2 separate regions of the Homo sapiens genome follow, and region 1 is linked to region 2. A link means that fine-mapping ties the variant in region 2 to the expression of a gene that starts in the linked region. Tissue or cell type: prefrontal cortex. Region 2 holds a variant in brackets; the other region holds the start of a gene. All regions are shown on one strand. Distances are from middle to middle.

What was found. PIP is the estimated chance that this variant, and not a neighbour inherited with it, causes the effect.
Region 1: WDR27 starts here. The variant in region 2 is fine-mapped to the expression of WDR27 in prefrontal cortex (CommonMind, PIP 0.91).

The regions. Positions count from the first base shown.
Region 1 is chr6:169,697,922-169,706,025 of GRCh38, reverse strand. It overlaps WDR27 (WD repeat domain 27), which reads left to right and starts at 3,997. Exons shown (of 26, transcript NM_182552.5): 1 at 3,997-4,475. It overlaps C6orf120 (chromosome 6 open reading frame 120), which reads right to left and starts at 3,900. Exons shown (of 1, transcript NM_001029863.3): 1 at 1-3,900. The coding sequence starts at 3,566. The coding sequence ends at 2,991. It overlaps PHF10 (PHD finger protein 10), which reads left to right. Exons shown (of 12, transcript NM_018288.4): 10 at 302-410; 11 at 705-893; 12 at 1,938-2,124. The coding sequence ends at 2,023. RefSeq lists a silencer at 3,534-3,903 and enhancers at 3,954-4,043, 4,364-4,443.
Region 2 is chr6:169,617,829-169,625,932 of GRCh38, reverse strand. The region is part of intron 21 of WDR27 (WD repeat domain 27); the gene reads left to right. Among named protein-coding and RNA genes, the nearest start is that of WDR27, 80 kb to the left of the region's middle. RefSeq lists enhancers at 1,275-1,774, 5,710-6,354, 6,355-6,999. The variant C/T (reference allele first, on the strand shown) is at 4,641.

The DNA.
Region 1 (8,104 bases), 80 kb before region 2:
CATTGTATTTAGTCTTTCCTTCCATTCATTAAACAAATCTTACTGTGCATGTAGGGAGTATAGAATGCTACATTTAATCTTACGAGATCATGCTGTTTACCAAATTTTATGATGAAATTAATGCTTTCTTCAGTAGGCAGTCTTACATTGTAGGCAGACTCCTGTCAAGTTTTGTCTTTCAAAATGGTCCTCATTAGCAAGTTACCAAAAGTAAAAATAGGGCAATAAAGTAACAGAATTCCTTTTAAACCCATAGTAAGCTCTTCTGGCATGAATTTATAGCCCTCTTCTACCCTTCCAGCCAAAGGTCATTCCAAATGCTATATGTGGAATTTGTCTGAAGGGTAAGGAGTCCAACAAGAAAGGAAAGGCTGAATCACTTATACACTGCTCCCAATGTGAGAATAGTGGTAAGTATTGAAATGTCTTTTTAAAATTTTAACCACCGTATTTATTGGTTCAAAAACTAGAATTTATAGTTTCAGGCAGATTTCAACCAAAGAGTCACCAAATTAAATACACAGGGTAGCTTGTGAGGCATAGACACAGCCCATGTGTTTTCCTCTACATTGTATATTCATTTCTCTTTGGCGATTTGACATTATAGCCATTCTCTGGAAGTCCTAAAGCAAACTAGTATTTTATGTGCCATATTAAGTTAAAATTTCTTATGTGAGATACCACTAATACTGGTTTTGATTTAGGCCATCCTTCTTGCCTGGATATGACAATGGAGCTTGTTTCTATGATTAAGACCTACCCATGGCAGTGTATGGAATGTAAAACATGCATTATATGTGGACAACCCCACCATGAAGAAGAAATGATGTTCTGTGATATGTGTGACAGAGGTTATCATACTTTTTGTGTGGGCCTTGGTGCTATTCCATCAGGTAAAGATTAAAAAAAGAGCAAACATTATCTTTGGGTGATGAGACTCTCCCAGCACTCCAAAAGGCTGCATAAACGCTATCATGACATGAAGAGCTTGTGGACTCTTATGTGCAAATATGACCAAAGCTGTGATTATACAGGTCATGTCCACCAGCTTTTCATCCCTAGACAATTCCAACTAAAGGATAAGTGAAAGGCCAGAATGCCCCTGCTAAGTTTTGGAAGTATAGTTCTATAGAATGAGCTGGTGTTTTTCTACTGAAATACTAAAGTAACAAAGCCTTTATTTTTATATGTTATCTATTTAGAAACAACAAAATGACTGCTACGTCTTTATACATTTCTATAGAAATCTATTATAGATTTCTGTAAATTGAGGCAGCATGACAATTCCAGATAACTTTAGAACAGAGTTGAATAAATCACAGTAATTGGACTAAAACATTACACAGATAATTGTGTAATTTTAGAACTTACTTGCATAGTTAACACTGTATAATACTCTTATAAAATATATGCCTACAACGAAGTTTCCTGGGAATCATTAAGCAAGCAACATAATTATTTTTCTGTAGTAATTCAGATCAAGTATGTAGTACAAGTTATCATTGTGCTGTTAAAGTTTTAAAGTGCTGTCAGCAGAGTACACCAGGACTTGAAAGAATGCTGTTAAGACACACAGCTGCCAGTGAGCAGGAGAGAAAAAGTCTTAAAAAAGCCAAATTCCGGAATGGGTTTTGACCTTTTGAAGTATGATAGTGTTTGAATTTCAGGAAAGATTGTACTTTCTTAAAGGTCCGTATCACCGTATGGCATTGCATCTCTCCCATCCCCCTTGACTTGCAATGAATTTTGCATGGCATTGATTACATTGATTAAGTTTACATTTTTTCCTTAAATTAAGGAACTCATAGTGCCCTTCTCACCACAAAATCCAGAGAGGAATATCATTAGTGATAGCTAAGGCAGAAGAGTTTAGATGGGCTTAAAATTCAGTCCTGTAAAGATAATTTTTCATTCTATATTAACAATTTTTTTCCTAGGTCGCTGGATTTGTGACTGTTGTCAGCGGGCCCCCCCAACACCCAGGAAAGTGGGCAGAAGGGGGAAAAACAGCAAAGAGGGATAAAATAGTTTTTGACTCTAATACTGTATATGCATTTAAGTGGAATATTTGGTGCCATTTACAACATTATTTTCATGCCAATAAAAGATTTTTTTTGCAAATTATGAGCTTAAAATCTGCAGTTATTTCTGTTAAAAGCTACGCTTACTCTCGAAACTAACTCCAGGTAGAGAATTCATCTTCCAAAGTATTTTATAGTAACCTTGGCTCACTCCAAAAATTCAGTGGAAATGTTTAGTAACTTAAGATACTTAACTGTTTCTCCATAGCCCCAAAAGTTAATTTTCATGAAACTTCCTAATCTACATTGTTTCCGGCCTACCATAGGTAGCACTGACAAAGTTATTTAATAACTGAAGAATTTTCATAGGTATGACAAATGGCCCACTAAGATTTGGTGCAGCTGGATTTAGAGTTGTCATTATTGGACTGGTACAGGAACAAACTTTGTAAATACCTGCCTGCCAGGAAATCCTTTTTGTATAGAAAAGTACCATCACCTACTTGGGGTACAGGCATGAGGCTTTAGTCCAGGCTCAGGGAAGTGTACGTAAATCATTTCCAACTTGATTTTAGTAACTCTTGAAAACTTACACCAACTTCGGTTAGAATCTCCAGAGTAAAATTACAAAGTTATCAACCTTTTGATTTGTGTCACAGCATGAAAGGTTGCTCTATTTTATATAAACCTGTTACTGCAATCATTTTTAGTCAACCTGCCTAATGAAAATGGAGTCTAAACACTTTGTGCACAGTCCTTTTATAGGAATTATGATCTTTAAAATACTGTGCTTGCTGCTTTTCCTATTTTTGGGGTAACTGAGGTAACAAAACTGCGTATGGCTTTATTTTTCCATCCCTTGACTAAAGGTACCTAGAACTTCAACCAAGTACAAGTAGCAAGGTTCACAGCAAACTGCAATCAGCTTCACAGATGGAGGGTTTTATATCCCAGAGTGTGGTCAACGACTCAAAAGAGAATTTCAAGTACCAGTTTCAAAATGCTAATTAATATCGTCCAGAGAACAGATTCCTCCTCTTGCGAGGCGTCTTCCGGGGCACCAGCGTGCTTCTGGCCGGCATCTGCGCCGTCGGCGGGGTAGGCGGCCTCGCCGAACGGGTGCTGCTCGACCGTGCCGTCGTAGTACACCTTCATCTCGAACTCGCTCTCCAGGTGGGAGGGGTGTCCATAGACGCCGATGCCCACTGGGCGCCGGAAGTGCGCGGGGATGGACACGGCGTCCGGGCCGCAGGTGGCCGATTGCAGCTCGTAGTCGTCGAAGCTGGGGTGCAGGCTGCTGGCGGAGACGTACAGATCCGCATCTCCCTTGAGGCTGCGCATCCTGAGGACTATCTTGCCCTCGTGGTTCAGCCGCAGGTAGCTGTAGTTCCCGGCGCCTATCTGGCCCTGGACGACGTGCAGGAGCACCCACTCCTCGGGGACCTCCTCCTCGTCCGCGCAGCTTCCCGGAGACAGGACCTGCGAGGCTAGGAGCAGCAGCAGGGCCGTCGTCCAGGGCGCGGCCCTCCCGCGGGGAGCGGCCATGGCTGGCGGCTCAGCTCCGGGGCCTGCAAGTGGGTCAGTGCTGCTGGGGACACCGGAGGCGCTCAGCACCGGAGCCTGTCCCCGCCGTCCGCACGCGGGTCCACGGCGCGTCCAGGCGCCTGGTCTGTCGCTGGGACTGTCCCTTCCCACCCGCGTGAGGCCCCGGGGAGGAGGGGTGGGTTAACCCCTCCCCCGTAGCGCGGCGCCCACTCAGGGCAGGGGCAGGGGCAGGGGCAGGGCCGCTGTGGCACCCTCGGACTCACCACCACTCCCCGCAGGGGGCCGCGCTTTATACATCCGGACCCGAGGCCGGAGCCTCGCCGGAGGCGGAAGTGACGCTAGGTCCGTAAGTGAGCCGGCCGGAAGCGAGGCTTCTCCAGCTGTCGCGAGATAGCGAAAGGGGCGTGGGCGCGAGGGGCGGCGGGCTAGTAACCATAGCGGCTCGCGTGGGTCGGCTGGCAAGTAACCATAGCGGCGAGCGTGGGGCGGAGTGTGGCTCGGTAGTCCTCTGCGTGCCCTCCTGGGAGCTGGGTGCTGTGAGTCCTCCCCTAGCGGGCTGGTCTCGGCGCGGAGTCGGCGCCGAACCCGAGCTGCTGCTCTGGGGCGTGTGCCTAGGGCGCAGGGCTGGAGCGCGGGGGCTGCGCGGTTGCTCGCGGCTCCGCTGAGGTCTCTAGGAAAGGGGGCGATTTGAGGGTTCCGCCGTGACCGCTTCCAACGGCGGACACGCGCGCTCTGGACCAGAGCCGTTGCCCGCTGTCTCGTCACCCGAAGCCTCCTCCTGACGCCGTGCTAGTGCGAGGGTCTCCAGGGGAATTCGGGGCACAAGTCGGGCCGGAGCATCCGGGCGGCCGCTTGAGATCGGCGCTTTGAGAACTGAGCGCATGTGGAGTTCGGAGGAAAAGGGCTCAGGTGGTTATTTTAATTAAAGCAGCTGTGTATAAGGAGCACTCAGATCTCTTTAAAAGATTCAGTAGTTTAGGAACGAACCAGGGCTGTAGAAATGCCCGGCCTCCTGCACCTCCCGTCGGTTCTGAGCTCCGAGGGCGGGAGCGTGGACCCTGAGGGCTCGTTAATTATGCCCCACTGGCCTTTCAACCTGCGTGGTAACTACCAGGCTAGGTTTTCCTAACTCGAGCCAAACAGCAAGTTTCTGACTTGATTATCACTAAAAGAGAAAAATTTCGATCTTTTCTAATCAGAAGGGAGTAATTTTCTCTTTTTAAAAATATTCGTATGTACATTAAAAAAACGGAAATGCACAGGATTTTATCAGTGGTACTCCTCGAGTAGTAGAGTTTTCATCTTTTTATGTATTTCTAAATTTTCTACAATTTACACACACTGCTCTGTACCAGTAAAGGAGTATTAACTCTACAGCTTCCAGTTTATCTGGGATTACTATCTTGTGTTTACTGACTTAACTTTAAGACTATGGTATCTTTAGCAATCACTTGTCACTGCCTTTTCCTGAAGTGCTTACCTAGTGTTAGGTGCACTAGAATCTCACTAAAATAATAAATTTAGTTTATTTTCCCTGACTTGTTCTGTGCATGTATGTACATGGATATTCCTGGGGATATCCTGTGACATTGATTATCCCCTAGGGTTGGCACAGCAGGGAGAGGAGGTAGGGATAAAAAACTTTATTATTTCTGCATTGTTTAAATGTTTTGTATTGTATTGCTTTTGTAATTCAAAAAAATGTTAAACAATTTATATTAGTGGAGGTAGGTTAAGTGCTGTAGCAATTCACCCCAATAGAACAGTTGCATGTTTCTTGCTCACACAGTCCTGTGTAGCGGTTTCTAGTCAGACGATTCCTTTGGGCAGCTCTCTGCAAGCTGCAGCCTAAAATTCTTCCATGTTGTGGTTTTTTTCCTTAGGCCCTCTGAATTCTCCGCATTTAGCCAGTGGGTGGGGAAAGAAGAGAGGCAGTGCAGGAGGAATTTATGGGCCAGGCACTCAACGACTACATGGCTGCACTTAATTGCAAGGGAAGCTAGGGAGTGTAGTTTAGTTCTGTGTCTAGAAGGAAAGGGAAGTGGCTTAGTGGAAAAGGAACAGCACTTACCGTAGTCTCTCTTCTGGTGACCAGATCTCTGCTCCACTCTTGATCCCACATGGAGAACACACTCTCCCCACCCCAAGGGGGACACTTTGTCAAGGTGCCTAGTGCAACACAGAACATTTCTCAGGATTGCACAGTTCTCTCCATCAGGCCTGGCTGTGGTTCCTCGTGGTCCAGAGCCCTATGGACTAAGAAGACAAACTAGTTGCTCTCCCCACTAAAATGCAGTGGTTAAATATGACCATGGTTTTTGTAACCATCTCCCTTTTGGAAAAGGGAGACACATGGCAGACACTGGTCTATAGCAGTTTTGAAGTGATGCTGGGGTGGAGGTGGGAGGAATTTCCCAACTAGACCCTGATTCTGCTATCTGGGAGGAATTCCCTTGTCCATTGTTCTTTTTCTTTCCTTTGAGACAGGATGTCACTGTTGTCCAGGTTGAAGTAGAGTGGCACAATCACAGCTCACTATAGCTTCAACCTCCGTGGCTCAAACGATCCTCCCACCTCAGCCTCCCCAGCAGCTGGGGCTACAAGCATGCACTGCCACACCTGACTACTTTTTTTTTTTAAAGTAGAGACAGGGTCTCACTATGTTGCCCAGGCTGGTCTTGAACTCCTGGGCTCAAGTGATCCTTCTGCCTCGGCCCCACAAAGTGCTGGGATTGCAGATGTGAGCCACTGTGCCTGGCTTGTTTGCTGAGGCCCTTGATTCTACCCTTAGTCCTTTTCCTCCACGGTCTCATCTGATGTGGCTATGAGGATGCTGTCTTGGAAGGCTGCCATAGCTCACTCCTGGAGCATGGCAGTGGGGACCAGGCAGTCAGCCCTGAGCCCACCGTGTGCCCTTACTCTGTTCTTTGCTTGATACTTCTTAGGCTTCATCGTGTCCTCACGAGCACAGCAGCTTCTGGTCTGTGTGTATCTCGTCAGCTCTGTGTGCTGGTGATGCCATTGTCGTTCTTCCTGTGTCTACTGTTCAAGCCTGACTTTATTTTCTTTTGGTCTCCTGGGCAGCTGATACCCTGAGGTTATGTGGAACAAAGGCTTGAGTGGGAAGGTAGCCATCCTAGGTCAGATCTTTGCTGAAGGGCCAAGACCTGATGGTCCTTTGTCCCTCCCTGCAGCCTCTCAGGGCACTCAGGTTTCCCAGTGCTGCAGCCCCTGCTCTTCGTACTTTCTTTTCGTGTCCATTCCGCTTGCACACCAGCCAGTTCTCTAGTCCAATTCCGTGTGTTGGCTGCTAATGCGTATTCTTTGCAATAATTTCCTGTAGGGCTGCAGGAGAGTAAGCCTGTGGTAAGTTTTCTGCGTTATTACAGGTTGTTGCAGTTGAACCTGTTTGTCACTGCCTAACGTGAGTCTTGAGCTTTTCCCCTCCTGAATTTGTTTCTGTGCCCCATCACTCAGTCACTCAGCAACATCCTACAGTGTCACTGAAGCATCCTGCTTCAAGGTACCCACATCAGTCAAGGTAGGCTGACAGAAGTGACCTCAGCTTCATGCACTAAATGTTTCTCTCTTGCTTACACAACAGTCCAGCCTGGTGTCCTGATCACCCTTTAGTGGGAGCAGCACAGGCTGCCAGGTGCCACCACCGTGGCCCCTCTCCTCAGCCTTTGGAGCCCTCCGCCTCCAGCATGAAGGGCTGTGCACGGGCTGTGACAGGACCAAGCCTGTGCATGCATGGTGTGCTTTCCAGACCAGAAATTGGTGCACGGCTGCCCTCGACTTCAGAGGCTGGAAATGTGGTCCAGCCATGTTCTTAGTGGCTCCAGGGAAGAAGCAGAAAGAGCTTGGGGAAAACTGCCAGACCACAGAAATAGAAAAATGAATATTTTAACATATAGAAAAATAACTTTTTACACAAATGATTTTAGGGGCCATCTGACCTCTGTTCAATGGGAGGATAGGTTGCACTTCAGTTAGCTGCCCTGGACTCATGTTCTCGACGTGGACACGTGTGTGTATGTGTGTGTGTGTGTCGGTGTGTCCCTGACGATGTTTCTGCCTGCACCAGACCCTCCCTCATCCCTGTCTGTACCACCCTGCCATGGAGCAGGAGAGGCAGGAGAGGTAGGCATTAAAGCCGAGTACACTGAGGCAGAGGTAGGCATTGAAGCCGAATACACTGAGGCAGAGGTAGGCATTGAAGCTGAGAACACTGAGGAACAGAGGTGTTGGGCAGCTGGAGAGGTGGGACATCAGCTCGTGCACACTGGGGCCAGACTGACCCAGAAATTCTGAGTGCAGGCTGGTGCTTCCTCGTCAAGGTGGCTTATGTGTCCTGACAAGGCTTCCTTCCCTCCTTGGCTTCACACCATTGTTTCTGTGAACTCTTCATACTAGTGAGTCATGGTGTTATTTCTTTACTATGCACTCATCAGGAAATGCAAGCACATTCATATTCTGCCTGTAGGGACCAGCCCGCAGGGTCAGTGGGTCTCTCCCCGTGCGCGGGGACGAGTGTA
Region 2 (8,104 bases):
TCTCACACCCTGGTTGGCTTCTGTGGTGGCCTGGACAGTCACAGGAGGGCATCAGGGCCAGCTCCCATGTGACACACATGCTCTATCTGCTGAGAAGAGGCGGGCTCTGGTCTCAGAGTCACAGCATCATGAACGTGGAGCACGGGGCATCCTCATCCCCCCCAGAGCCCCAGACGGAGTAGGGGTGCCGGCGTGAGATCTGAGCAGGCACCACTGGCACCTAAGCTCTGACCCCATGGAGCAGCTAAGGCTCCACACTGGTTTCCCGACTGCACCTGCCTGCCGGTTTCCTGACTGCACCCACCTGACAGTGAGCCCAGTGAACGGGGCTGACTCTGAGACACAGGACTGACCCCGTCGGGCCTGGTCCCCGGCACTTCAGCCCAGGGCTCTCAGAAGATGGAGCTGAGCGTCCGCCAGCTGCACTCTGTCTGTGCTCTTGCTCTGTGGCCCGGGTCACGGGCAGACCCTTCCGACTGTCCAGGCTCAGTCTCCACCACCACCCCAGGAGGCCTCCCTGGCCTCTCAGTAGTTGGACTCGGCCCCTTACTTGGTCTTGTGTCTACACTGCTGTTCCAGGGCTCATCAGTGCAGTCGGAATGACGTGGAATTAATCCTCTCTCCTGTGAGAGTCTCATCTTGAGGACAGAGCCATCCGTTACTAGCATACAGTCGGTGCTCAAAAATTGCTTGCTTAGTCCAAGCCCAGTCCTGGCAGTTTTAAGGGGCCTGTTTGAGTTACAACCGTTGGATCTGCCTTCCTTTTTCAGTATTTCAGCAGGGCCATCGTGGACCCAGAAGAACTCCATGACCTGCTGCTGGCGCGGACACTCCAGGACTCAGCCTTTGGCTTTCCATAGTGGTGACATAAGAGAAGCAGCTACGTGTGTGTTTATTCCAGATGCCAAGTGAAGCCTAGAACAGGAGTTGCATCTTGCAGGTCCCCTCAGTGGATGGGCCGGGCCCCGAGGGTGAGGGCTGCCACAGTTGACTGCCCAGCCAGGCTGTGGGACGGCTGCTCTTGTACTCTCCATGCTCTGACTCAAGGGAACCTGTGTTCCTGGTCTCGTGCCATCTACCTGGAGCTGCAGTGAACACACATCTCGAATTTTTCATCCCATGGGGTTGCATGGCTGCGGCTCACGTGTCTCATGGGCCAGGCATCAGTCACAGGCCACAGCAAGGGCTCTAGTTGACGGTCAGGTGAGCTCTCTTCTCAGTGGTTGTCAAACTCTCATGGGAAAATTATTTAATTAAATTGGTTACTTTATCCTTTTTATTTATGAAAATTAATGAAGTTTTCTTTAGTTATTAGAGAACTTGGGAGGTCACCTGACTCCCTGGAAACGGTCGATGGCTGTTTTCGATTTAGGTCCTGCATGTCCCTGGCTGGGCTGAGGGGGATCGGGGATGGCACCAGGGCACAGCCCAGCCTCCCTCCGGCTCCCTAAGCAGTTCCGAGTGGACACGAGCGTTTCATTCACTAAGTCACTCGAGCTTGAGAGAGACGCATGAGGGGCTGCACTCTGGTGAGCTTCGAATCTCCTTTTGCACACCTGGAAGGTTCTCGTGGGTGTTCTTTGTCCTCGGATCCAGAGTGTATCTGATGCCACACGCCGCACACCTGATGCCACACACCTGACGCCACACACCTGACACCACACGCCACACACTGCGCACCTGACGCCCCACATGGCACACCTGATGCGCACACGGAACACCTGCCACATGCCGCACACCTGATGCCACACGCTGCACACCTGACGCCACACACCTGACGCCCCACACGGCACACCTGACACCACACACCTGACCCCACACACGGCACACCTGATGCCACATGCTGCACACGGCACACCTGACCCCACACACGGCACACCTGACCCCACACGCGGCATGTGGTGTCTCCAGGGCCCCATGTCCCCAATCCTGTGTCTGGTGTTCACCTCGCCTCGTGGGTGGCTGCCTGTTAGCTGGTTTTGCTGTTTGTGTTTGTGTCTACCTTCTTTTTGCTCAGGCTGTGTCACTCCTAGGCTCATTTACTAGGACCTAGAGAAGTGTGCCCTCAGCCAGTGTGAGGAAAACAGGCCCAGGCTGGCACTGAGTAGCCGTTGGGAGGAGTTTTCAATGTGCTAAATCCCATGATTGGGGCCTCACGTGTGTGTCAAAACACCATGCTGTACCCCAAAATATGTGCAGTTCTTATGGGTCAATTAAAAACAAAATAAATAAGTAAATGACCAGTTTTTCTTCTAAACGGTTCAGAATAATTCATCCCAAATGTGGGTTGTTGATGCTCCCCCACCATGGCTCTCTTGGGCACCCTGGCTGGACCCTCACTGTCTCTGCATGTGAGTGGGTACGCAGGCTGTGACTTCTGTGTGAAGCCTGCGGGCCCGGTGAGTGGTGCCGTCACTGGCTGAGGGCCACAGCTGAGCCACTGGGGTAACCGCCCAATGGTTCACCTTGTCTGCTGCCTAGATAGAGCCAGTTGATCAAGACAGGGGAATTGCAATAGAGAAAGGGTAATTCACACAGAGACGGCTGTATGGGAGACTGGAGTTTTATTATGACTCCAATCAGTCTCCCCAGGAATCTGGGGGTGGGAGTTTTTAAGGATAATTTGGTGGGTGGGTGGAGTCAGTGAATCACGAGTTCTGATTGGTCAGGTCAGAGGTGAAATCATCAGGAGTCAAAGCTGTCCTCTTGTGCTGAGTGAGTTCCTGGGTGGGGGCCGCACGACCAGCTGAACCAGTTTATTGATCGGGTGGGGTACCAGCTGATCCATTCAGTGCAGGGTATGCAAAATATCTCAAGCACTGATCTTAGGTTTTACAATAGTGATGTTATCCCCAGGAGCAATTTTGGGTAGGGGTGGGGGAGGTGGTCAGAATCTTGTAGCCTCCAGCTACATTACTCCTAAACCATAATTTCTAATCTTTGAGCTAATTTGTAGGTCCTACAAAGGCAGTCTGGTCCCCAGGCAAGAAGGGGATTTGTTTTGGGAAAGGGTTGTTACCATCTTTGTTTCAAAGCTAAACTATAAGTTCCTCCCCAAGTTAGTTTGGCCTCAGCCCAGGAATGAAAAGGACGGCTTGGAGGTTAGAAGCAAGATAGAGCTGGTTAGGTCAGGTTTCTTTCACTGTCTCAGTTGTAATTTTGCAATGGCTGTTTCACCGGGACGCTTCTCCCGTGTCGAAACACTGCAGTGCTCTCCTGAGGAGGGACACAGTAAAAATATCACTTCTTTGAAAAGTTTCCTGTTTTTATAGCTCTGGTAAAAATAATGAATAATAGATTTTATGTTAAACTTCGTTTTCAGTCATTTCTTCATCTCTTTGTGGAGATTGTTTTATTCATATTGTTTTCCAAGTGGTTCTGTTTTTTTCTATAAACATTCAGTGAAATGGCCATGGAGAGTAAAGTGTTAACAGTCTGACTTTGGGCTGAACTCTTAATTCAATACCTGTTCCTAATAGCAGTTAAATATACCACTGCTCATTTCCTCCCACCTTAAATTTGGTTTGTATGTGCGTGTGTGTGAACCCTGAACATCTGAGGCAGGTTTCAGTGAAACTGGAAAGTTTATTTTGCCCAGGTTGGGGATGGGTGCCGTGACACAGCCTCAGGAGGTCCTGACGACATTTGCCCGAGGTGGTCAGAACACAGTTTGATTTCACACGTTCTAGGGAGACATGAGACATCAGTCAACATACATAAGATGAACATTGCTTCGGTCTGGAAAGGTGGGACAACTCGAAGCAAAGGCAGGAAGACACAAATCAGGGAGGGGACCTTCAGGTCCTGGGTACATAAGGGACAAATGGTTGCATTCTTTTGAGTTTCTGATGAGTCTTTCCAAAGGGGGCAGTCAGATCTGCATTTATCTCAGTGAGCAGAGGGGTGACTTTGAATAGAATGGGAGGCAGGTTGGCCCTAAGCAGTTCCTAGCTTGACTTTTTCCCTTTAGCTTGGTGATTTGGGGGCCCAGAGATTTATTTTCCTTTCACAGTGTGTATATGTGTGCAAGTATATGTGCCTGTGTGTGAATGCCTGAGTGTGTTCATATGTATATGCGTGAATATGTGTGTATATGCGTGAATACGTGTGTATATGTATGAATGCATGTGTGGGTATGTATATGCATGCATGCATGTGTGTGCGTCTGTATATATGTGTGCGTGTGTGTGTGTATGTATATGTGTGAATGTGTATATGCGTGAATGCATGTGTGGGTATGTATATGCATGTGTGGGTATGTATATGCGTGAATGAATGTGTGGGTATGTATATGCATGTGTGGGTATGTATATGCGTGAATGCATGTGTGGGTATGTATATGCGTGCGTGCATGTGTATGTATATGCATGAATGCGTGTGTGTATGTATATGCGTGCGTGTGTGTGTATGTATATGTGTGAATGCATGTGTGGGTATGTATATGTGTGCATGCACATGTGCATATGTATATGTGTGTGTGCATGTGTGCATATGTATATGTGTGAATGCGCGTGTGTGTATGTATAGGCATGTGTGCATGTGTGTGCGTATGTCTACATGCATGCATGTGTGCGTATGTCTACATGCATGTGTGTGCGTATGTATATGTGTGAATGCGTGTGTGGGTATGTATATGCGTG[C/T]GTGCATGTGTGTGTGTGTGTGTATGCATGAATGTATGTGTGGGTATGTATATGCCTGTGTGCATGTGTGTGTATATGCATATGCGAGCGTGCATGGGTGTATGTATGTATATGTGCATGCATGTGTATGCATATGTATATGTGCTTTTAATTATAGTATTCATTAAAGTGCCTATTAATTAATTCATTTAAAATATCTATTAGCTGCTGCTGTGCACTTGGCAGTGTTCTGTGAATGAAGAGTTAGATGAAGTGAGGGCAAAGTCCTTGTGCTCAAGAATTGTATTTTCTTACATAGGAACACGTGTATTACACAAGGTCAGGTGCTCTGTGCTGACCAGGTAACTAGAGCAGCAGGTTCATGACACAGGGAAGGGTGCCAGGTCTATGTCTGGAGGAGCAGAGTGCAGGAGGAGCAGGTCTATGTCTATGTCTGGAGGAGCAGAGTACAGGAGGTGGACTGTGTGGTGAAGCCGGTGGAGGGGTGGACCTCGAGCCCCTTGTTAAATCAAAATATCTAAGACAGGTCTCGGTCAGTTTAGAAAGTTTATTTCACCAAGGTTAAGGATGCACCCATGACATAGCATCAGGAGTTCCTGACGATGGTGGTCGGGGCACCGCTTGGTTTTATACATTTTAGGGAGACATGAGATATCAATCAATATGTGTACCATGTACTTTGGTTCAGTCAGGTAAAGTGGGATTTGAGGCGAGGGCTTCCAGGTCATGAGTAGATAAGAGGCAAAAGGTTACATTCTTTTGAGTCCTTGATCAGCTTTCCACTGAATACACAATTTAGTCTAGCTCAGTGAATCATCATTTTTACATAAACAATAGGGGAGAGGAAGCAATGAGATACGCATTTGTTTCAGGGAAGCCTCGGAGGGATGTCTTTGAGTTCTGACTGTCCTTTGTCCACAAGGAATTTCCTTGTGGGCAAATTGTGAGGGAGGTCTGTAGCTTCTTATCTTTGTAGCTATCTTACTTAGGAATAGAATGGGAGGCAGGTTTTGCCTGAGGCAGTTCCCAGCTTGACTTTACCCTTGGCTTAGTGATTTGGGGGTCCCAAGATTCATTTTCTTGTCACATTCCTGATGGACATCTGGACAAGCTGGCTCCCTGAGACAGCATCCCTGCAGGTAAGGTGTGTCCTAAAGGGGTGAGGACTAGGCTCTGATTAAGGGGTCTGAGGAGTCATGCTTTAAAAACCATCAATTCTCGTCAGATGGGTTTTATTTAACCTTATGTATCATGACTTATTTTCCAACCTGGCTCTGGCATAACATTACAAGACAAGGAAGAAAATAAAAATATTTCACTCCAAAACATGTGTCTTTGCCATATGTCGAAATGGCCCTGCAAAGCTGTCCTTTGTGTGGGAAAACCAGTTCAGTCACATTAGTCATGCATCTGTGAAGAATCTCTATTAACATGGCTAGATCTCTTTCTTCCAGGCCCTCCCAATCCTAAACAGATTAAGAGTCTAGCACCTTTTAAAGATCTGAACAGGAAACATTTGTCACCTGTTGTCTCCAAGGGCAGCCACTAATGAGGCTTCAAAAGAACCTTGGTCTCCACAGTCTTTTATCTTAAACTGAACATTTCCTTTCTATTGATCCCAGGTCTTCAGAGAAACTCAACCAATTGTCAACCAGAAAATGTTTACTTTTACCTAGAGCCTGGAAGCCCCCACTTTGAGTTTTCCTGCCTTTCCCAGGTGGGAAACCAGTGTATTTCTGAAATGTCTTTGATTGATGTCTCATGCGTCCCTAAAATGTATAAAACCAAGCTGCACCTGACCACTTTGGGCACATGTTCTGAGGACCTCCTGAGGGCTGTGTCACGGGCCGTGGTCACTCATATTTGGCCCAGAATAAATTTCTTCCAATATTTTACAGAGTTTTACTCTTTCTGTCGACAAGAGGCGCATAGGATATTTCATTCCAAGTGCTGTGGTGAAGACTGTTTTTACAAGTTGGCCTTGTGAAGAGCCATTGTTGTGTAGATGTGCCTCGCTTTGTTCCTGGAATGACATGGTGACCGTCTAATTTCCCAATTCAAGGAGAGTTCCTCTCTTTTAAAATCTTAGCTTTTTGTTAAGAGGTTTAGTGTCTTTGCTTTAGGAAACTGCTTAAAATGTCTACATTTTTCAACAGCTTGAGCAATGACTATACAGTAGCCTGAATCCTGTCAAATCTATGTGGTCTTTCAGTAGGGATTGTAATATTTTGTGAATCATTGTGGTGTACTCTTGGATGAGAGGTGTTATATTAAGAAAAATAGTTCTGAGGTTTTTTATGGGAAAATTACGGGTTTTACTTCCTGAAAATAAACATCTGAATGGTATTTGATGGAATGAAAGGGAAAGAGTGTAAGGTTACAGAGGTTTACACTATTTTTTAATAGCTTTTTTAAAAAAACTTATCTTACATTTTTGTTCAGTTGCACAATGTACATCAAACTAACCATAGCCATGTGGGGGCTGCTACTCACAAACTGTCATCCTACAAGTCCAAATACAGGAGAAGCAGAAATTATCATTGGCCCAAATGCTGTATTTCCAGTAACATATAAAACAGGGCATTTCTAATTTCTTCTAAGCTTAGTAACCACCTCAGCCACATTAGTCATGCATCAATAATGTTTTTTTTTTTTTTTTTTTTTTGCAGTCATCCAAGTGCACCACCATTAACATGATCTCTTCTGAGAATTACTCCTATAGTTATCTTAATTCTGTTGGACAAATGGAATTTTAAATTCATTTTAGTATTGTATTAACAAGAGTGCCAGATGCATCAAAAAGTGATGGTCATATTTTCCTATTTTATGTGTTATATTATTAAATGGCTCATTTAAAAAATGAAAATGCATACGTGTTTTATGATTTATTGATATCCTTAAAGTCCTAGCAGGTGTAGATACTTTATATATTTTTAAAACTTGATAGGATACTACTCTTTGCCTGCCTCTGAATAAAATATGTACTATTTTGTGATATAAATACATAATACTAGACAGCTAATTTTAATTAAAAACAATGTGTAAAAGTTTAAACAGCTTTTTTAATGAAATAATTTTATTACATATGATTCTAGATTTCAGGAATAGTCACTTATGTTATTTTGCTTTATTAGTTTTAGATCTTGCTGTATTTTTAAAAAGGAAATGAAATGATTATTGATGCAGAGAAAACCCTACCCACATCCCTCCCTTTTCTTCTTCTCTGATAACCACTGCTGAATTTGGTATGGGTCTTTCCCTAGTACCCATTCAGAAGCAATGATACAGGAGTTAAGAAGAAATTACTTAGGCAGATAATGAAGGTATGGGAATCCTCCCTAAGGTTTTCCTTTTAATGAAGAACAGCCCCCAAATCATTTTCTTTTCTAACGAAGAGCAGGCTGTAAAATCGAGCTGCAGAGTTAGACAAACAAGTTGGAAGCTTGTAAACGCGAATACTGGCA